4 separate regions of the Homo sapiens genome follow, and all the other regions are linked to region 4. The links come from fine-mapping of genetic effects on gene expression. A gene starts in region 4. Each other region holds a variant in brackets. All regions are shown on one strand. Distances are between the middles of the regions. Region 1 overlaps PARP11-AS1 (PARP11 antisense RNA 1). Region 2 overlaps LOC105369608 (a long non-coding RNA gene). Region 3 overlaps PARP11-AS1 (PARP11 antisense RNA 1). Region 4 holds the start of PARP11-AS1 (PARP11 antisense RNA 1).

The links. PIP is the estimated chance that this variant, and not a neighbour inherited with it, causes the effect.
Region 1: its variant is fine-mapped to the expression of PARP11-AS1 in blood mononuclear cells (TOPMed, PIP above 0.99). The same link has a PIP of 0.9 or more in T cells, lung and whole blood.
Region 2: its variant is fine-mapped to the expression of PARP11-AS1 in whole blood (TOPMed, PIP above 0.99).
Region 3: its variant is fine-mapped to the expression of PARP11-AS1 in whole blood (TOPMed, PIP above 0.99).

The regions. Positions count from the first base shown.
Region 1 is chr12:3,903,134-3,908,425 of GRCh38, forward strand. The region is part of intron 1 of PARP11-AS1 (PARP11 antisense RNA 1); the gene reads left to right. Among named protein-coding and RNA genes, the nearest start is that of PARP11, 32 kb to the left of the region's middle. The variant A/G (reference allele first, on the strand shown) is at 2,059.
Region 2 is chr12:3,947,926-3,953,632 of GRCh38, forward strand. The region is part of intron 2 of LOC105369608 (a long non-coding RNA gene); the gene reads right to left. Among named protein-coding and RNA genes, the nearest start is that of LINC03141, 61 kb to the right of the region's middle. The variant A/T (reference allele first, on the strand shown) is at 2,674.
Region 3 is chr12:3,894,502-3,900,208 of GRCh38, forward strand. All of the region lies in intron 1 of PARP11-AS1 (PARP11 antisense RNA 1), which reads left to right. Among named protein-coding and RNA genes, the nearest start is that of PARP11, 24 kb to the left of the region's middle. The variant G/A (reference allele first, on the strand shown) is at 3,410.
Region 4 is chr12:3,867,236-3,872,942 of GRCh38, forward strand. It overlaps PARP11-AS1 (PARP11 antisense RNA 1), which reads left to right and starts at 2,937. Exons shown (of 2, transcript NR_183432.1): 1 at 2,937-4,721. All of the region lies in intron 1 of PARP11 (poly(ADP-ribose) polymerase family member 11), which reads right to left.

The DNA of each region.
Region 1 (5,292 bases), 36 kb after region 4:
GACTCCCTGTGGGTGCCAGAATCCACAGATGCTCAAGTTCCTTATATAAAATGGCATAGTGTTTGCATGTAATCCATGCACATCCTCCTGTATACTTTAAACCATCTCCAGATTACTCATAATACCTAATACAATGTAAATGCTATGTAAAGATTTACTATACTGTATGTTTTAAATTTGTGTTATTTTTATTGCTGTATTCTTCTTTTTAACTAAAAAAAATGTTTAATCTCACGTTGGTTGAATCCAAAGATGTGGAAGCTGTGGATATGGAGGACTGACTACATTATCTTCTTTTATTTTTTCTGTTTATTATGTTTTTCTTTGCTACTTTTTTCTCCCTGTTTTCCTCTGCGCTTTTGGAGTGATAAAGTTTTTATAATTACGTTTTTCTCTGCCTGGATTGAAATCTATATTGTGCACTTCTACTCATTAAATGATTATCCCTATATTAGGGCCGGGCGCGGTGGCTCACGCCTATAATCCCAGCACTTTGGGAGGCCAAGGCGGGCAGATCATGAGGTCAGGAGATCGAGACCACGGTGAAACCCCGTCTCTACTAAAAATACAAAAAATTGGCCGGGCGTTGTGGTGGGCACCTGTAGTCCCAGCTACTCGGGAGGCTGAGGCAGGAGAATGGTGTGAACCCGGGAGGTGGAGCTTGCAGTGAGCTGAGATTGCACTACTGCACTCCAGCCTGGGTGACAGAGCGAGACTCCACCTCAAAAAAAAAAAAAAAAAGATTATCCCTATCTTTAAATATTTAACAGTTATACACTTATTTGTATGAACAAATCTAAACTTTTTTGGTAATGTTATTCTCTTCTTGGTGGTCATACATATTCTGTATCTGTTAAAGTCTTCCCTCCTCTGTTTTATTACTATTTTCTTTAATTTTAACTTCACACCTCATTCCTTTTTTTTTTTTTTATGGAGTCTGGCTCTGTCACGCAGGCTGGAGTGCAGTGGCACAATCTCAGCTCACTGCAGCCTCCGCCTCCTGGCTTTAGGCAATTCTCTGCCTCAGCCTCCCAAGTAGCTGGGATTACAGGTGCCCGCCACCAAGCCTGCCTAATTTTTGTATTTTTAGTAGAAATGGGGTTTCACCATCTTGACCAGGCTGGTCTTGAACTCCTGACCTCGTGATCCACCCGCCTCGGCCTCCCAAAGTGCTAGGATTACAGGTGAGAGCCACAGCACCTGGCCCATCCCTCATTGCTGAATGAGAATTAGCTAGATAGAAATTTCCCTCAGCAGTTTGTAGGTATGGCTTCATTATCTTCTCGGGTTCAATTACCTTCTTGGTTTCTATTCTATTACACCTTAAATTTTTCATAGAAAAATGTAAGATGTAACTTCAGTCTAAGTGTTAATCTTTTTTAAGTAATCTATTTTTCCCCACTGGCAGCTTTTCCTTTTATTAATGATGCTCTGCAGTTTCATTGTGATGTGGACCTGCATCAAAGTGCACTTTTGATCTGAGTTCTCATATTTTTCTCTAACTCTGGAAAATTCTAAGCTACAATCTTTTCAAATAATGACTTCTCTCATTTCTTCCAGTCTCTTTTCCTTTCTCTGGTACTCAAATTAGAGATGTGTTGGAGTCTCTCAGTCTGTCCTGCAGGGCTCATAACTATTCTGCTCTTTTGAATTTTATATTTCTTTGTCTCTTTGTACTAGATCTGGGTAAATTTGTCAGTACTCTCAATTTACCAATTATCTCTTAAACTGTGCCTAGTCTAGAGATTATCGTAAATATTGGCTTTCTTATTTCCAGAATATATTTTTAAGTTCAAAAATTTTCAGTTGATTGCTTTCCCTGTCTACATGTGGTGGTTTGCCCCAAATTTGCCCCATCCCTTCATATATGCCCCTTTGCAATGTGACTTTGACACTCTGACTATCAATAAGTGGGGTATACCTCTGCAGCCTCAAATCTGGTCTTGTCTATGTGACTTGTTTTGAGCAGTGGCCATTGGCAAATATATAATTCAACAGAGGCTTGAGAAGTTCTTGTGCATTGGAGTTTGCCCTTTTTTGGCTGCAGGAAACCCTGCT[A/G]TCACACGGAAGCAAGCCTAGGTTAGCCTCCTAAAGAATCACAAAAAGAAAGACCCTAGCTGTCTGAATGATCTGAGCTAAGTCCCCAGACGTGCAAGTGTGGCCATCCTAGACCACTGAGCTCCAGCCAAGCCAGCTTGCATCAGAAGAACTGTCCAGAAAACTCACAGAATCATAAGAAATAATGCAGGTTGGTTTTTTAAGTGACTAAGTTGTGGGGGTGGTTTGTGATGCAGCCGAAGGTAATTGATATACTGTGTTGTTCCATTTCTCCCTGTTTTGTTTCCCAATATTTGTTCACTTTTAAGGCATCTAATTCCTTTTCCACGTCTTTAGTCACCTTAAGTGTTACTGTTCAAGTCTTACTGTTCAATTTACCGTTTAAGTCCTTGACATACTGTTTCATAAAATTATTCTCAACTGGAGTGAACTATTGACTTTCTTGACTGTTTTTCTTAGCGCTTATTTTCTACATATATTTTGGAAAGTCTGCAGGCTTATTTTGAATGGAAGGCATTTTGTTTTGTTTCACTTGTTCTGCTTTTTCTTGTACCCAGTTGAGAAGTTTTGCAGATGCTTTCACCCAGCACGCTGTACTCTTGGTCCACAGCTGAGTCTCAAGATAGTTTTCTGGGGCTCCTGGCCCACAGTGATATTGAGAATATTACAGAGCCAGTCACAGAGCTGGCTTTGAATCAGCTGGCTTCATATCAGCTTTAAATTTCTAATCAGTTCCTGTTTAGAAGGCCGGGTCTTGGATCGCTGTAGTTCCACAGCTTCTGAGAACGCCTGGCTTTCAGCAGTTAGCCTGGTTCTATCGTTTCTTGAGTAGACACTTAGTTTCTATTATCCTATCCAAGCCACACTCCTTCCCATCGCTGCCTGGTTTGGGGTCCAGAGCCCTGCAAGCCCACGGCTTTACCCCCCTCATGCTTGCAGTCATCCATAAAGATGCTTTCTTCTTGGTTTCAAGTTTGGGTATTTTTATTATTATTATTATTATTATTTTAGACAGAGTATCACTCTGTCACCCAGGCTTGAGGGCAGTGGCGCGATCTCGGCTCACTGCAACCTCTGCTGCCCAGGTTCACGTGATTCTTCTGCCTCAGACTCCCGAGTAGCTGAGACTACAGGCACCCGCCACCACGTCCAGCTAATTTTTGTATTTTTAGTAGAGACGGGGTTTCACCGTGTTAGCCAGGATGGTCTCGATCTCCTGACCTCATGATCCCCCCGCCTCGGCCTCCCAAAGTGCTGGGACTGCAGGCGTGAGCCACTGCGCCCTGCTAAGTTTTGTATTTTTAGTAGAGACAGGGTTTCACCATACTGGTCAGGCTGGTCTTGAACTCCTGACTTCATGATCCACCCACCTTGGCCTCCCAAAGTGCTGGGACTATAGGCGTGAACCACCGCGCCCGGCCATGTTTGGGTATATTTTATTAGGTTTGTTTTTTCCTTGTCTATACTTTGTCTTTCATGGTCTTTTACTTAGAACACAGGGAATGTGAAGAAGTGTGAAATTAAGGGGAGCCCGTTTGACCGGAGGTCCATTTCATATAATTTTATCTAAAAATTAAATATAAGCTTAAGCTGGCATGCAAGATCTTTCACAATTCAGATCCGCTTCCCACTCCCACTGCTAGGCACCCCGCACTTCACTCACATCAAATTGCCTCCTGTTTCCTGAACACAGCACGTGCTTTTATTCTTTGGGGCACGTTCATATCCAGAACAGCCCTCCTGCCACACCTTTCATCTTCAAGACCTTCATGAAAACTCATTTCAACTGGGAAGTTGGCTCCAGATCCCACAGATTAAGTTACTTCTTCCTTCTCTGTGCAGCTGGTATTGTTACATACCTTTATGTAGTGCTCTCTGTATTCCTCTATATTCTATTTCTATATACTACTTAATGTCATCGAATTGTGAATTTTAGTACTTATAATCTCCTCCAGGTAGGCTGAGAGCTTCCTGAAGACAGACACTGTCTTTTCCATATTCATATTCTTGGAAGTTAGCAAAGGGCCTGGCACAAAGTATGCACTCAGTACACACGTACTGAGTAAATGAATGAATGATTCATATGATGTGCAAGATAAAGTAAGCATATAGTACATGTGGTTTATTGCCATATTGTTATGTCCATAACAATTGCTGTTTATCTAAGTGTCTGCTTTGGGCAACATGAATGTGCTATATTTATCCACTGCACTTAGAAATAAAGAGAAGGCAGCGGACAAATTTTTATCCTGAAGTTTGCCTTATATAACTACCATTAAGCTAACTCTGTGCAGAAGACAATTGACATACTCCAATACACCTTTTGTAAAAGTGTGGTTTTTACAACTCTTAAGGCAACATGAGACAGTCTCATTTCCTTCCTCAATTTCATGGCATTCTTCAAAAAAGAGTGGAGGAGGATGTTAGCACGAGTTGTTATCTTTCTTTTTTTTTTTTTTTTGAGACGGGAGTCTTGCTCTTTCGCCCAGGCTGGAGTGCAGTGGCGCAATCTTGGCTCACTGCAAGCTCCGTCTCCCGGGTTCACACCATTCTCCTGCCTCAGCCTCCCGAGTAGCTGGGACTACAGGAGCCCGCCACCACGCCCGGCTAATTTTTTTGTATTTTTAGTAGAGACGGGGTTTCACTGTGTTAGGCAGGATGGTCTCGAACTCCTGACCTCGTGATCCACCTGCCTCGGCCTCCCAAAGTGCTGGGATTACAGGCATGAGCCACCACACCCGGCCCGTTATCTTTCGAGCAAAGTAAAAATACGATGGAAAAAGCTCTAATATGTGTAAATGCTTTACAGTTATAACAACTCAGTTCTATCTTTCTATCAATTATAATTCTATCTCAGGAGAAGGGTTACGTTTTTTGTTCCTTTTTTTACAAAGAGGATGTAATTTTGGTACCAAATGGCATGCTGTGTGAGCAAAAATATTTGTCTAATTGTCCAACTTTTCTGGAATCCTTCAGGATACTATTTCTTCCTCAGAAACAGAATGAAGGCTCTGTGACATGGAAGAAACAAAAAGGTTTTCATTCTGGTGGGAGTTACTTGTGCTTTCATTTCCTCCAGCTCGATTGCATGGCTATGGCAAAAACAGAAATTCAACTGAGTAGAATTTCTGTTCTAAAAACATCTAAAATTCATCTCAAATCTGTATCTTTTCTGGGGAGAGAAACTAAATCCAGTCTAACAACTAATTAAACAAACAAACAAATACCCTAAAA
Region 2 (5,707 bases), 81 kb after region 4:
CTTCTCTCTCCACTTTAAAGAAATGAAAACAGGAAATCATAGATGATGCGTTAAGGGTGTGGTTTAAACAAGAAAGATGACAAAGAAAAAGGCATTGGCTCTGCATCAAAAGATTCATGTAGATATGTAGATATAAATACATACATATACATCGTTTGTGTTAAAATAAATATTTAGGGTAAATAGATATATTTTTTCTTTTTGAGACACAGTTTCACTCTGTCGTCCAAGCTGGAGAGCAATGGCACAAACTTAGTTCACTTCAACTTCTGCCTCCCAGGTTCAAGTGATTCTCGTGCTTCAGTCTCCTTGAGTAGCTGGGACTACAGGCGCCTGCCACCACACCCAGCTAATTTTTGTATTAGTAGAGACAGTGTTTTGTCACATTGGCCAGGGTGGTCTCGAACTCCTGACCTCAACTGATCCGCCTGCCTTGGCCTCCCAAAGTGCTAGGATTACAGGCATGAGCCACTGGATATGTATCTTTTTTAATAATTCCTTTCCAAGTAGATCAAAACCTCCTTGAAAGTAATAACCCTGTTTCCATTAGGACTGGCCACAGAATTTGTTGAGCCCAGTGCAAAATGGAAGTGTGGGGCTCCTTGTTCAAAACATATTAAGAATTTCATGATAGTGACAGCAGCGCGTGAAGCTAAGTGAGGGGACTGAGTTTGAGGCCCTGTGAGACTGCACAGGTTGCATCTCTGATTCCCATCTTTTAGCACAGAACTTGACATACAATAGGTAATTCCTTCACTCGACAGGTATTTTGCATGCAGTATGCTAGGCTCTGCTCTAGACTCTGGAAATACAGTATGGAACAAAAAAGAGAAAAAGTCCTTGCCTTCACGGAGCTACATTTCTTTCTTTCCTTCCTTCCTTCCTTCCTTCCTTCCTTCCTTCCTTCCTTCCTTCCTTCCTTCCCTCCCTCCCTCCCTCCCTCCCTCCTTCCTTCCTTCCTTCCTTCCTTCCTTTTGAGACAGAGCCTCGCTCTGTCACCCAGGCTGGAGTGCAGTGGAGTCCTTACCTTCACGGAGCTAAATTAATTTCTTTCTTTCTTTCTTTCTTTTGAGACAGAGCCTCACTCTGTTACCCAGGCTGTAGTGCAGTGGTGCAATCTCAGCTCACTGCAACCTCTGCCTCCCGGGTTCAAGCGATTTCCCTGCCTCAGCCTCCTGAGTAGCTGGGACTACAGGCGCCCACCACCATGCCTGGCTAAATTTTGTATTTTTAGTAGAGACGGGGTTTCACCATGTTGCCAGGCTAGTCTCAATCTCCTGACCCTGTGATCCACCCACCTCGGCCTCCCAAAGTGCTGGGATTACAGGTGTGAGCCACCGCACCCAGCATCCCTGGAGCTTAATTTCTATTGACAGTGGTAGGAAGTGAGAGGGTATACAATAAATAATAAATAAGAGATATAACTTAGATGGTATTGAGGGATGTGGAGATAAATAAAACCGAGAAGAATAGAGAATGAGGGAATCAGTATGAAACCAACCTAGCAGCCCCACAGACAGTTCTTTTGGATAAACATAAAAATGGACCCTTCTGATCTTAAAGCTTGAAACTTGCATTTGTTTTATCTGAGTTCCTTCCTCAGGAAAGGACCCCCAGGCCTCTCAAAGTATCAAAGAACTAAAACTCACCAGATCAAAGAACTACATCAAGACAATGACACCAGGTCCCCCATTTTGTTTCCTTACCCCTTCCTAATTCTTGTTTTCTGACACATTGTTACATTTCTTCCCTGCTATAAAAACCCCTAATTTTAATTGGTCAGAGAGATGGATTTGAGACTGAGCTCCCATCTCCTTGGCTGCAGCACCCGACAAAAGCCTTCTTCCTTGGCAATAATCGTCTCAGTTATTGGCTTTCTGTGCAGTAAGCAGCAGGACCTAGACCAAACCCCTGGTGTTTCGGTAACAAATAAATATTTGTTAAATGAATGCAATTAATTTCTTATTAAACTCAGAATAGAATGGCAATGTATACTTTGAAACAAATGAAAAACAGACCCAGGGAAAAATCAACACAAGGAACAAATAGAATAAGTGATGTTTGTGCTACAAATTTGGTTCTGAGCTTCCTGGTAACCAAAGTAATAAGAAATGACCAATTACATAATTCTTATCATCAGAAAGAAGGAAGCATACCTATGTCCTAGGGCTAGAAAGAGAGATACAGTATACCTTTAACTTCCTTACAGAACCAGACGACATTGCAGCTGTGAAAATAACTTAAATAAACATAAGGTACTATGATATACAGGGAGGTATTCATAAAGAATTCTTCCACAAGATAAAAGAGAAATTTTTCATTGTAACAGCTTTGTTTTTCCTGGAAGAGTGCTAAGAAATTCATCTTTGTAGGCAAAGAAACTTTCAAATAGGCTAACATCTTAAAGTTGAAATCTAACAATCACTTCAGCCCACAAACATTTCAGCCAGTCTGTACAAGTCCCACCAATTTCCCTTCCTGACCCTTGGTAGAGTAAGAAAAGTGCCCAGTGCCAGGCGGGCAGTGATATCAGCCTCCCTCCACCATCCCAGCTCTGCACCCATTGAAACTAAAGCTGCCATCGCCTTTTCCTTCCACTCCTCCCTCATAACCCTAAGGCCCCAAATAGGAGCAGACCCAGGAAACCAGGTAGATCCATTCTCAGAGACACGG[A/T]CATGTCTTGTCCACACGCAGACTGAAAGCCCAGAAACTGCCGGCTAAGAGCAGTGGAAAATGGCCCCACTCATTCCTCTCCTTCCTGCCATTCTCCCTGTCTCTTCCTCTCTTTATCTTTAATCTCTCTTGCCCTACATCGCTTGGTCTTTCTCTCTGCTTTCTCTTCTCCTCACGACCACCACCACCATTTACTTAGGGGATGTTCTACATATTGTTAGTTCACAGAGACAGTTGAACAGGAGAGACAACTGAACAGAGGACAGCACATGAACATAGACCAGGCACTGTCTCTGTGCCTGTTATCCTGTGTCTGCATGCCATTCTCCCACACACTGACACACCAAATAAAGATCTGTGTCTATTTCAGAAAGACAGAGATTGATGGGAAACAAATGAATAAAAAGTGCCAGCTGCATTGACTAACATTATCTTTTATCTAGATAGGAAAAAAACAAAACAAAACAAAACAAACCACAAAACACCTCTTTAGATCAGAAATGTCCCAGGACCTTCAAAGCGGCCTAGAGAAGTTGCTTTTGTGAGTATCTTAAGCACGATTTTAAACGAGCCTACAAATTCCCTCAGCCACCTGTTTGAGGCTGTTCTGACACCAAACATCAACTCATGGAGACCAGCTACTGCCAAAAAGAGAAAAATCTAAGTGTTTCTAACAAGGATGTCGCGAGACTATTGAATCTGGTTCCATGTGAATTTCCCTGTAAAATGTGAAAGAAAAGGCATTCTCAACCAGCCACTGTTTCTGGCACTAACAATTGACACAGCCCGCTCATGGGTATCCCCTAGGGTGTGAAAGAGACCCCGTTAATGAGAGAGGAGCTTGCTGCGGGATTTCTATTTCAGGCCTTGTGCTAGTAAATATAACTCTGTTTACACAGACTTGAGTCTGGAACGTGCTTGAGCTGCACAATGGCTGTTTGAATCACACCTTAACGTGGTCTTTGAAACTCTGAGCTGTGGTACGTGTGGTTGTGTCATTTTCTTTCTTTCTTCTCCGCCATGGTGTAATTGGAAACTCTTCTTCCGTGACTTGCATCGTATCCCTGTAAACCAGGCAAGGATTTGGGGACCAAGCCCATTCACGCCCGCACCTCAGGTGATCTCGTGCCTGAGAATTCACAAAGAATGCCCTCCCCTCTCTTCACTGCATCCTGTCTCTAGAGCCCGCGTCACTGCATCTTCCCACCTCCCTGGACACGGCCTTAACCTCATTTTTTTCTCTGGGGCACCGCTGCAGTTCGGGCAGGCTCTTGGACTCCGCAGGAGCCCACACCGCATTGATGCCCTGTTCCCTGGGGCGCACTGCTTGCGGGTGCCCATCAGGACCAGCCCCCGTGGTCTACCGTGGCACACTAATGCATCTGTGAAGCTATGTGGTTTGTTCCCACCCTGGAGTGTCTCTACTGAGCCATTTCTGTTTTTACTAGTTTCTCTGCCTCATTTATCTCCAAATCTTGTCCATTTTACCCTGAATCTCTTTTCTTTCTCTATTTCTGTTGCCAAAGCCTTAGGCTACGTCCTCATTATTGTCTTAATTATTACAATAGCCTACTAATTTTCTCTGCCAACGGGCTCCCTTTTCTAATCCATCCTCAACCTCGCCGGCATAGTTATCATTCTTCTTTTCTAATATAATATTTAGGATCATAACTTTTTCTTTAAGTCAAGGTTTCTTAACCTACGCACCGTCACCATTTGGGGCCAGATAATTCTTTTTTTTTTTTTTTTTTTTTTTTTTTGAGACGGAGTCTGGCTCTGTCGCCCAGGCTGGAGTGCAGGGGCGCCATCTCGGCTCACTGCAAGCTCCGCCTCCCGGGTTCACACCATTCTCCTGCCTCAGCCTCCCGAGTAGCTGGGACTACAGGCGCCCGCCCCCACGCCTGGCTAATTTTTTTGTATTTTTAGTAGACACGGGGTTTCACCGTGTTAGCTGGGATGGTCTCGATCTCCTGACCTCGTGATCCGCCCATCTCGGCCTCCCAAAGTGCTGGGATTACAGGCGTGAGCCACCGCGCCCGGCCGATAATTCTTTATTGTAGGGGGCTGTCCTATGCACTGTAGGGATGGCAGCATTTCTGGCCTTTACCTGCTAGATGGTAGTAACAGCTGCCCGTAGTTGTGACAACCAAAAATGCCCCTAGACCTGCCAAATGTCCCCTGAGCAGCAAAAGTCCCCCTATTCAGAACCACTGTTCTCTGTACCTTATATTCCTCCAGTTTTATGTAGGATTTTAAATTTTGTTCTGTCTGAATATTTATTTATTGCTATTATACTTTTTTTTGTGATCCACGAGTTAATTAGAAATGTTTTAAATTCTAAACATTTGGTGTTGTTTTCTTTTAAAGTCACTTTTTTGGTTGTTGTTCATGTCTATCTTAATTAGATTTTGATCAGAGAAGGTGAACTATATGGTATTTATTTTTTGGTGTTTGTTAAGACTTGCTTTGTGGTTTAGTAACTTGTTAATTTTTCAAATATTTCTTGTGCATTTGAGAAAAATGTACAGTCTTCAATTGTTGAATACAAGATTGATCAATCTTGTTCATTGTGTCATTCAAATCTTGTAAATTCATGCCAATTTTTATGCGATTTGAACATACCAGAAAGGTGTGTTTTTAAATCTCCTATAAAGATTCAAAATTTTCTCCTTGTAATTCATTCAAATTTTGTCTTATACATTTTTAAAGTCTATAATAGATAAATACAATTTGCATTTGTTATATCTTTCTTATAAATTGATCCTTTCATCATTATATAATGATCACTTTTTGCCTCAGACTTTTTTTCTGCTACAGTTATTATAGCTACACTTTGTTTTGACTCTTACTTGCCTGGTATATCTCTTTTTATCCTTTTGCTTTCAGCCTTTTTGTTGTGTCCTTTTGTCTTAGGTATGTATTTTTAAAACAGCATAAGCAAGTTTTCTTTTTATTAAAAAAAATTGAACCTGGCAATCATTTTTTAACTAGTGAGTCTAATTCACTTACATTTATTGTTTCCTAATATATTTGG
Region 3 (5,707 bases), 27 kb after region 4:
TGGGTCTGGTTGCTCAAGCTTAAACCCTTAGAGCTTCCTCTCACATGTGCTCTCTCTCTTTTGATGCCTCTGCAAATCCTGTTCACTTTACCTTCAAATTATGTGCAGAATAGAACCATGTTCTGCTGTTTCCAAGGCTACTCCCTAGCCCAGCCACTATGTGACAGCCCCCTAACTGCTCTCCCGCTTCTGCCCTAGCTGCCTACATACTATTCTCAACAGAATTCTCAGTGTTATCCTGTTCAACTATAAGCTTGATCATGTCACTTCCCTGCCTCCCAGGATAATAAGAGCAAAAATCAGTATTCAACACGATGTCCTGCAAGTCCCTCCACAGTATGGGCGCTTGTCACCTGTCAGACTCCATGTCTAATGGCTGTCTCTTTTGCATACTCTGCTCCAGCCATCCTGGCCTCTGCTCGCCCTAAAACATGCCGGGCACAGTCCACCTCGGGGTCTATGCACTTGTTCTTCCCTTCACCTGGAATGCTTTTCTTCAAAAAATCCCCATGGCTTGCTTTCTTACTTCCTTCAGGCCTGAATTGAAATTTCACTTTCCCTGTGAAGAGGCCTTGATTACCTTCTTTAAATACCCCCCTCTCCCAGCCTCAAAGTTTCATAACCATCAGTTACCCTGCTTGATTTTTCCCACAGTCTTATTACCAGTTGACCAAAGATATTTACTTACTTGGTTTTTTCACTTGTCTATCTCTCCTTACTGAAATGTAAGTTCCATGATGGCAGGGATTTTTGTCTGTCTGGTTCAATTCTGAATTCTCATTGCCTAAACTGTGTCCGACATGTAGTGTGTGCATAATAAATACATATTCACAGAGTGACTGAATGAATGGATGGATCTCTCCCTTCAAAATGATATTCAGATTCCCTCTATAGTCTTCATTCTAACTACCAGCCCCCATTCTGGACTTACCCCTTGAGGTCTGTGTTTCTGTGATGTTCTATGCACTGGGTATCCCTCTAACACCAGAACCAAGATGAAAAAACAGATTTCCTGATCCTCAGCCTAGGTTCTGTCCACTCTATGATCTACGACGTGCATATTTTCAATGGTCTGTTAGTGGTGTCTAACCACGAAGGCAGGCTTAGCCAGACATTCTGATCGTGCCCAAGAGTCCTATTTAGAAGGTCATATGAACAGGCTCTCTTGCCCATACATACAGGCTTTAAAAAGTTGAATGATGTTCTTGTTAGACTCTGTGGTTTAAGAAACACAGTGCAAAAGGGAGTCCATTATTGGGAATGGAGGATCCTGGGACAAGCTGAGTGAAACAAGCACACTCTTTTTCGGAACCTCTTAAGATTCTGGGAGGCCCTTTCCAGGGGAATAATAAGGCCGAATTGAGTGCAAGAGACATATCTTTGATTTTCATAACCTTTGCTCCCTTCTTTTCCATATGGCAGAAGGCTTTCTCTCAGAAACCAGGAAAAACAATGGAGTATCAGCATAGCCTAAGGCAGTGCAAACTCAAACATCTAACAGGACCAAGCGGGGAATATAAATGAGGGGGAAGGTGGGGATTGGGGCAACCTGGAGAGGGCAGATCGCCACTACTCCACTTGGCCAATGGTTTCCATGGGGGAAATGTAGGGCCAGAGGTTCTCAAAAGTAGCTAGGATTCTAGAAGTGAACGTAAAATCTCCTAAGTTATAAATGTCGGCAATAAATCTAAACATTTTTTTAAATGCCATAGGGTCCAAAAAACACATCTTTGGGTGGAATGGTTTTGTGAGCTGCTTACCTATACCCGTAATGTAGGAAAAAGCACATGAGCAGTCCAATCACACTGCCTGAGTTTGACCCTTGGTTCTACCCACTGGTTTACAAAGTTACTCTAAGTCACTTAACTTAAGCTTCATTTTTCTCCATCTCTAAATCAGGACAGTGCTTCCAGGACTGACATGAAGATTAAATGAAAGAACGTAGTTGCTACTCAATATTAATTGTCCTTGTTTTTTGGATCTCTGCTCCCTCCCTTTTTTCTCATTGCACAATGAACTAGAAAAAACAGTTCCTCCACATTCTTATTTAAAGCAAACTAAGCAACGCTTTTTATCATTTGTCAGATTTTTTTTTACCATGATGAGCCTAAATACACTGTACTGGTTTCTAATCAGACCTCATTTGCAGCTGTGATTTTTGTGGTGGTTGTTGTTGTTGTACTATTTTGTTTTGTTTTGTTGTTTTGTTTTCAAAGAATGAGAGGACAGAAGAAGCATTAAAGCAACATTCTTTCCAAAATTAAATTCTGGCAATACAGTCTCCAGTGATCCTGACTAGGAAGCAAAGGGAAGACCCCGAGCCAGCAGGGGAAGCCCTCCAGCACTCTCAGGTTTTCAAAGAGCCTTTACAAAAGCACTAAGCAGGGCACATCACCGGAGAAGAAAAGCAAAGAGTGTCACAGGCTTGTAGCCATAGTGTTAGCAAGGCTGGGGCTCAGAATGAGCTGAGACTTGCAAAAAATGCTCAGGAACAGCAAAAAGAGCTTTGTGCAAGTATATTCTGAGCAGGAAGAATAGGGAAGGGCCAGATCCTGTGCTTGGGGCAGATGGTGTAATGCTAGCAGATGACAGATACAAAGCAGAATTATGCAACTCCTACTTAGCTTCCATCATCTCTATCTCTCAGAATGATCTTCAAACTGGAAAGAACAATATAAACACTGCAAAGAAGCAATTGCAGCCCTAGTTATGAAGCTCTTTAGAAAATGAATACCTGGGCTCTCTAAATAAGCTTAGATCTCCAGGCCCTGACAAATTCCATCCCTGGGGACTGAAAGAATTTGTAGATTTAATCATAGAATGATTGTCAGTAATCTTTCAGGAATCTCAGGAGTGATGCCAGAAGATTAGTGATGGGCAACTGTCCGAGTTGTCAAAAGGGGAAATATGTAGGTTTGGGGAACTTTGCACTGTTGAGTTTAACTTTGATCCCCAGCAAACTGTAAGCTGCATTATTAAGGAGTTAGATTACAATCGCTTTGAAAAGGAAGTGGTAATCTCAAGAAGCCAGCACAGGTTATGTAGAACAAACCATGTCATACTAACATCACTTCACATTTTTTTCTTTTTTGAAAGATTACCAAAACTCTCAAGATTGTCCCAGAGGTAGTGAATCTTTCAACAGGGCTTCCGACAACACATTTTATGGTACAATGAATGGATAGGGCCTGGGTGATCTATGGCTTGGTGAAGGCACAGCTAGGCAAACCATTGTATCCAAAAAGCACTGGACAGGCGGGGCCAAGTCAACTCAGAGAGAGGTGTAGCACAAGATGCCGCTAGTCCTTGTTTGGTGCCCGGTTCTGTGAAAATCCTTTCAATGACATGAAAGAGATGCCAACATATAAATATGAGTTGACACAAAATGAAGAAGTCTAAGTAATATGCC[G/A]CATGACAGAAACAGGATATGGTGGTTTGCCTGAACAAGGAGCCAAAATAAGCATGATGGAATTTAATGGAGAAAATGCAAGTTCTTCATATTGATTAAAAAAAAAAAAACTCAGTTATTCAAATTATTGACAATAGTTAATGGGAAAAAGTCTTGAAGATTGTAGTTAACAAAAAGCCCAACATGAGCCAAAAAATTCTGACATGGCTACAAAACAACTAGTGTTTGCCAGGTAGCATAAGGGGAATTGTAACAGGCAGAGCAAGGGTGATGAGGGTGCCATTGGCCCATCTGCCTCAGAGCATGAGGGCTTATTCCTGGTACCATGTTTCTTCTTCACATTCAACTTTGTGGTCTTTGTATTTTGTAAATCACGAAAGCAAAATATATTCATAGTAGAAAACTTAGAAGTACAGAAATGTATGAAGAAGAAAACGAAAATTAGCTCTCATCATTTGGAGATCACTACTGTTATCATTTTGGTATATGTCCTTCAAGTCTCTTCTGGAGACTTGTGTTCCATGAGGCACATGGAAGTACTAAAAATGTGGGTTAGGTAGTGTTTATATTCTACATTAAAAAACTAACATTATGTCCTGAATTATTTCCTCAACTTACATATTCTTTGAAACCCAGTTTTAATAGTTATACAACATACTATTGTGTAGATATGCCATAATTTGTTTGAATTGACTTGCTCTTGGACATTTAGGCTGTTTCCACTTAGATGTGGTGGCAGGAAGGTGGCACTAGATTTTAAAAGGGGATACTGACAAAGCAGTGATCAGTCCAGGGAGGATAACTGGACTAGTGAAGCATCTTAGAAACCACGACCTGAGAGGGGCAGTTCAGAAAACCGGGAACGTTTATTCCAGAGAAGGGCACACATAGACAACTCTGATAGCTGTCTTCAAACCCTTGAAAAGCTGTCAAATGAGAAAGGGAGTGAATTAGTTTTGTGTTGTTCCAGAGGGCTGAACTAAGACAAGTGGACAGAGGCTGAAGGGAGTCTGATTTCAGCTCTATTTCTAACAATGCCCACTGTCCACAGACAGGCTGAGCTGCTTTGTGAGGGAGTAACATCTCCATGACAGCAAGGTGCAAGCGGAGATAAGACAACCACCTGGGTCAGGAACTTGTAGAGAGGATTCCTACATGGAGTGGGAGACTGAAATAATAACCTCAAAGATGCCTTCCAATCAGAAGATTTGGTGATTCTTTCTGAGTTATCAAACTGCCTTCCTTTGACCTTGCTCACATGTAGAAATCCAAGTCAGGTAAGGAGCAAAGAAGTCAATGACATTAATCTCACTGCTAGAGTAAGCACTGTAGCTCAGAACTAGAACACACGTCTGTGTACTTGGCCTTGGCTCATATCTAGGTAGTTTTTTACAGTCAGCAAAGCACTTTGCAGATAGAACTTATAGTTTAATTCTTGTAACAGCTTTGGGAAGTAGATATTGACATCATCCCACTATTAAAGTTGAGAAAATTGAGGCCCAAAGTGCTGGAGTGACAAAACCCAGCCATCCACCTCTAGTTCCTTGCCACTTCCCAGGATGCAATGCTGCTGTTCTCTGTGTGAGTTCCTAGTGCACTCTTTGATGGGCTGTGAAGGTTCTTTGTCCTTTACACTCTGTATTTGGTGTCTCTTCGGCTACAATTTAAACACTTTAGGACAAGGGTTTAAGGGCATGTTATTTTTCTTTTGTATCCCATCCTCCCACCGCCCAGTGATCTTTCTAAAATGCACATCCGATCATGCCAGCCCCCTGTTTTGAGTTCCTCTTAGGCTTCTTGTTGCTTGGCACAGAGATGCCAACCCATTTGGGAGGGACTGCGGATCCAAGAGTGGTGCACATTTCAGAATCTTGGGAGGAAGTGAAGTACGACTTATAGCATATAGAAGCAATACAATAATTATTTGAAAAGAAAAATCAAAGCAATTTGTTCATGAATACGTTTGTTTTGCTTACCAGAGCTATATATAGGCAATACTATAATTCTCGACACTTTTAGGAGAGCACATTATTTTGAGGGTGCGTGAGACTTTCATTTTCATCAAAGAAGCCATGAATTTTGTTGTTGTTTGTGGAACCACAATCTCAAAAGTGAAAACATGCCATCTCTCATATCTCAGATTTCCATATATGTATGGGCTTGTGTCTGGACTCTCTTTCGTCTTCTGTTAGTTTGTGGCTTCTGTGCCACAGTCATGCCATCTAATTATCATGGCTTTATAAAATGTTTTGCTCTCTAGTCGGACAGCTGCCTCCACTTCTTTTCCTCCAAAATTGT
Region 4 (5,707 bases):
TATAACTGAGTGTTGAAGGAAATAATGGAAATTAAACATCATCAAATATTGACTATTCAGAGTATGCGCTCTCAGATGTTGCAGAAGGAAATGGCAGCGTTTGCAAGATTATTCTTCCCACGCAAGTTTGCTGGCTGTCAAGGAAAAAAGGTGCTGACAAGTTTCTGAAATGAGGGATGAGATTTTAAAAAACAAAAAAATTCTTCATAATGCTGACAATACCAAAAAGTAATTCTATGTTTTCTAGAGGCCTGCTTAAGTGGAGTATAGCAGAGATATATCTAGAATTTTAAATAGCGTGAACCTACTACTTCAGGGCCAAAATACCCTGATTTTTAATGCTGAGAATAAAATACCATATTTTTCAAAGTCACCAAGCTATGTTGCAAATGGCTCAATTGCTAGGATGTGATTCCTTCCCAAAACCTGATGGTTTTCTTCACTTCTTAGAGTGAGACTGATTACACTATTGTGTGTATAAAGAACATGACTAAATGTTAAAACAAAACATGGGAAAATACTTTCCAGATACTGAAGAAGTCAAAAAATGACTTAAGAATCCATTTGTTACTATCTTCCAAACATTCAGGCTGGTTGAAACATTCACCCTAATATTACAGGCTTCTCAATAACGCAACTGAAAGAGCACAAGATATAATCTTCAGGGAGAAATCTTCCGATAATTTTTCAGTCTGTATTTGACCTTGATATTCCTAAACATCTGACAGCGCCAGCAAACACAAGTTGCAATTCCTGACAATCTATAATTGTGGCACAACATTTCCTAATTTAGTAGACATACAGAGTAATCAAAATGTGGTCTAACCTACATCTCAAACTATTATCAAATTAGATATAAGTACTTTGTAAGAAGCTGCAAAAAAAAAATCATCCTTCTCAATGATAATAAAAACATTAATTTCTAAAATACTGTTTTATTGGGGGCCAGGCACGGTGGTTCACGACTGTAATCCCACCACTTTGGGAGGCCTAGGCGGGTGGATCACTTGAGTCCAGGAGCTTAAGACCAGCCTGGCCAACACAGTGAAACCCTGTCTCTACTAAAATACAAAAATTAGCCAGGTGTAGTGGTGCACATGTGTAGTTCTAGCTACTCAGGAGGCTGAGGCACAAGAATCACTTGAACCCAGGAGGCAGAGGTTGCAGTTAGCCGAGATCATGCCACTGCACTCCAGCTTGGGTGACAGACTACCTATAGACACTGAGGCTCAAATTTCAATTTCCAGCCCAGCCTTCTTCTCTGAGCTCCAGACTTACCTCCCTAACCAACTGCCTTCCAAACTTTACTACCTGATGCTTCATAGGCACATTAAACATAGTGAGTCCAGAACCAAACTCCTGTTATCTTCCATATGGCTCAGTGAAAACATCTTATTCCTGGCTGCCCATGCCAGAAAGCTAAGTCATCATCTAAGATGCAGCTTGAATTGATCTCCTCTCTCCCCACTTAGTAGTCACCTTCATAGGTGACTTCATACTTTCCCCACATAGTCCAAGTCACCTTCGTCTCTACCCTGGACTACACTATAACCTCCTAATTAGTCTTCCTACAGCCCCTTATCCCCCTCAGTATTTTCTTTTGCTGCTAGAACAAATTACCACAAACGCAGTGGCTTAAAAACAACACTAATTTATTTTCTTACATTTCTGAAGAAATCTTACATGCATCTCAATGGGCTAAAATCAAGGTGAGTTTGATTCCCTTCTAAAGGTTGTATGAGAGAATCTATTTCCGTGGTTTTTCAAGCTTCTAGAAGCTACCCACATACCTTGGCTTGTGACCTCCTTCCTTCATCTCCAAAGTCAGCCATGTTGTATCTCTTTGACCATTCTTCCATAGTCACTCCATGTCTTTTGTCCCCATGTTCTACTTTTAAGGACCCTTGCGATTACTTTGGGGCCCCCCTGGATAATCCAAGGTAATCTCTTTATCTTAAGGTCAGCTGATTAGCTAATTACCTCCCTTTTGCCATGTAACAACATATTTACAGATTCTGGGTATTAATATGTGGATATCTTTAGGAGGCCATTATTACGTCTACCATATTTTCTAATACATAAACTCATTTTCCACACATCAGCCAGAGTAATCTTTTTAAAAACATAAATATGTTCATGACACTTCCTTCAATGTGTTACCACTCCTCTAAGGATAAAGTTCAAAATCCTAAACATGTGCCTCAAATCCATGCATGGCCTGGTTCCTACCTCCTGGGCTTGTCTTCTGGTGCACTGTGTCCCAGCCACATAGGCTTCTCTCTTTTTCTCAAGCACCAAGCTCCTTTCTTTCTCAGGATCTTTGCTCACACTATCTCTGCTGTCTGAACAGCTCTCCCCACCTTCCAGCCAACCTTTACCTGGCTAACGCTTGCTCAATCCTTCAGATCTCTATAAAAGTTACTTTCACAGGGTGGCCTTTCCTGATTGCCCAGTCTAGTATTAGCTCCCCCTACACTGTCATAGTACTCTTTTTCTTTCATATCTTTTTATCACAATTTAAATTAAATGTATTTGCATAATTATTTGTTTAATATCTGCCTGCCTGCACCAGACTGCAAACCCATAAAGGCTGGAGCCTAGTCTGTTCTGTTCACCACTGTAAACCCTGGGACTTCGCACTAACTAGCTTATAACAGGTGCTCAATAAATAAGTGAGTGACATTACATGTTATTATATGACCAGCAGGCAGGTAGAGTATATGCAGTGTGGATATGCTGGACAAAGGGATGATTCGTGGCCCCAGGCAGGATGGAGCACAATGGCATGAGATTTTATCACACTACACAGTACAGTATGCAACTTAAAAGTTATTAATTGTTCATTTCTGGAATTTTCCATTTCATATTTTCAGACCGCAGCTGACTTCTGGTAAGTGAAATTGTGGTAAGTGAAACCAGGAAAGCGAAACTAAAATAAACTAACAAATTACTAGAGAAACCCACACGTAGAATGTTGATTTTTAAAACCAAATTGCGCTTACTGATATCATTCATATGCTTATAGGAAGAAAAACTATTAGTAGTAATAAAATACAGTAGCAGTAAGACAAATATGTCTTATTTGGGTGGCAAAAGAAGAATGTGAGATGATCTGTGGAGGATTCCCCACTTTTAACAAAAGTCAGCCTGCTCTGCTGAAATTAGCAAAATCACACAGGTGATTTCAAAGAAAACCCATTGCTTACAAAGAAATGAGATAATGATATAACAAATCAAGTATATAAGACATTCATTAATGCCTTTATAATTCTCACAAACACACAAATAATCCAACAGCAAATTCTGATGTATGTGTGACGCAGGAGGGAAAATTCATAGTAGGAGCAAAGAATTATCTTTAGTCCTTGCTGGTACAACCACCATCATGAATTCAACAAATATTTATTGAGTGCCTACTATGTGTCAGGTTCTGTTCTCTAGTTGAAGATACTATAGGAAAAATAACAGAGAAAAACCCCTGTCCTTGTGGATCTTACAATATAGTGAAAGATTTAAAACCTTGAGTAAGACATATACTTGGGTGGCTAAAGGGTTTGTTATGGAAAAATTAAGAAGGACTGATAACAAAAAGGGAATAATAGCTACATAAAGATATAAATACAAAATGAAGGTTGTTGATGACAGATAGTGAAACTGAATATATAAGCAGAGAGCACATTCTCATTATTCTAAATTATTTTTGCTAAAATCAAATACAAGTAATTACTTTCCTCTAATGCAGCTTGAAGAGAGTATTATACGTATGAATCGAAAATACTAAGATGATGACTATTGTTATATGATGCACAAGAAGGAACCATAATGTGCAACTACCAAATCCAGACCAACAGACTAGTTTCTACTGGATAAAAACTTAACTTAAAAACATAGGGAAATGTACTGATAAACTTTCTAACTTATCTGGAAATATATTCCAGAAATGAGAGGGGAAGAATACTGATTATAGGAAATTATTGCAAATATGGAAATTAGGGGTTATTAAAGTAAATTTATGCAGTTATCTCAGCATAGGAGTAGTTTCTTATGTTTCATACACAATTATGCATTGCATAAAAGCTTTCAGTCAACCATGGATCGCATATACAAGTGGTCCCAAAGATTGTTAACACTTTATTTTACTGTATCTTTTCTATGTTTAGATACATAAATACTTTCCATTGTGTTACGAATGCCTACAGTATTCAGTACAATACTATGCTGTACAGATTTCTAGGTTAAGAGCAATAGGCTATTCCATATAGCCTTAGGTGTGTAGCAGGCTTATGAAAGTACACTCTATGACGTTGGCACAATGAAAAAAATCACCCAGCAATGAACTTCTCAGAACATATCCCCATTGTTAGGAGGCGCACGACTGTATTTAGTCCAACAACTTGCTGAAATGTGATTCTACCATTTTTCCAGTCAACTCCTAAGTTTTAAATACCATACATCTGCCACCTTACCAGGCAGTTTCAACCATAACAACAGAAGAATACTCTTGGCAAATAGATCCCACTCTCTGAGGGTTGTGTTGGGGCTCAGAAAATACTACCCCGAAGTATGACACTTTGGCATGCTGAATACTTTGAACTAAAAGAGATTGGAAGGCCTCAGAAGCAGCCTCGGAAGCAGTCTCTCCCTCTGATCTCCTGCCCTTCTGTCTCCTGCCCATCTTTCGTCCCAGAAGTGAGTCACAGAAACCAGAATTCTTCCCCAAGGTGAGTGATAGAAACTAGGATCCCTCTCCTACAAAGCAAGCCATAAAAACTGGAACTATTAAGCTTTCCCTGCCATTGTCTATAGGAACTGGCCATAAAGAAATTCTCTAATCTACCTTGCCTGATAGTAGGTCGCTAAGACCCTCATTCCAGAAGGGACCTTCCTCCTCCGTAGGAGGAAGAAATGATACACAGAGAGGCCAAGAAGAATCTGAACAAACAGACCTTGCTGGGCTTCCTTCCTCAGTTTATTAACATTAGAGTATATCCTTTGTCCAGTCACATTTTTACACAGTTGTCTATTCTTCATGGGTCCTACGCATAAAAATAGAGATCTCCCTGGTCTCTGAAGTGCCTGGTGGTGTAAAACTTTGATTAGATTTGCTCTGCTTTTACCTTGTTAACCTATCTTCTGTTTTAAGGAGTGGTGGCTGTGATCCTTACAATGGGTGGTGAGGAAAGGTACTAAAGTTTTCGGCCCCTACGTTGCACTTTAAATAAATAAATGTATAAAAGCAAAGTAGACAAAGACACATGAAGTCATAATGAAAATACCAGAGTCAGCCAAGGAAGAAGGCAGACTTGCAGTTGAAATGCTCCAGATCACTTTGTCCACCGAACGAAAACATCTAAGAACATACAGTCCATACTCCAAGTTTTAAACGACTGTCCACCAAGAAGGGAAAAGGAGAACTGATGGCTCCTCTTAGGCCCATTCAAGACAAGGGGGTCCCAATTCCCTTGCTTTAGACTGGTGGGACTGGCAGGTAAACCTGAGGCAAATGACTGACTACAGGTTCCAAGGCCAGTTACTCCAATTAGAAAGCAAAACACAAAGTTTCAAAAAACAGTGAAGGCAGTCGGGAGGCTGAGGCACGACAATCGCTTTAACCCGGGAGACGGAGGTTGCGGTGGGCCGAGATCACGCCACTGCACTCCAGCCTGGACAACAGTGCGAGACTCCGTCTCAAAAACAACAACAACAA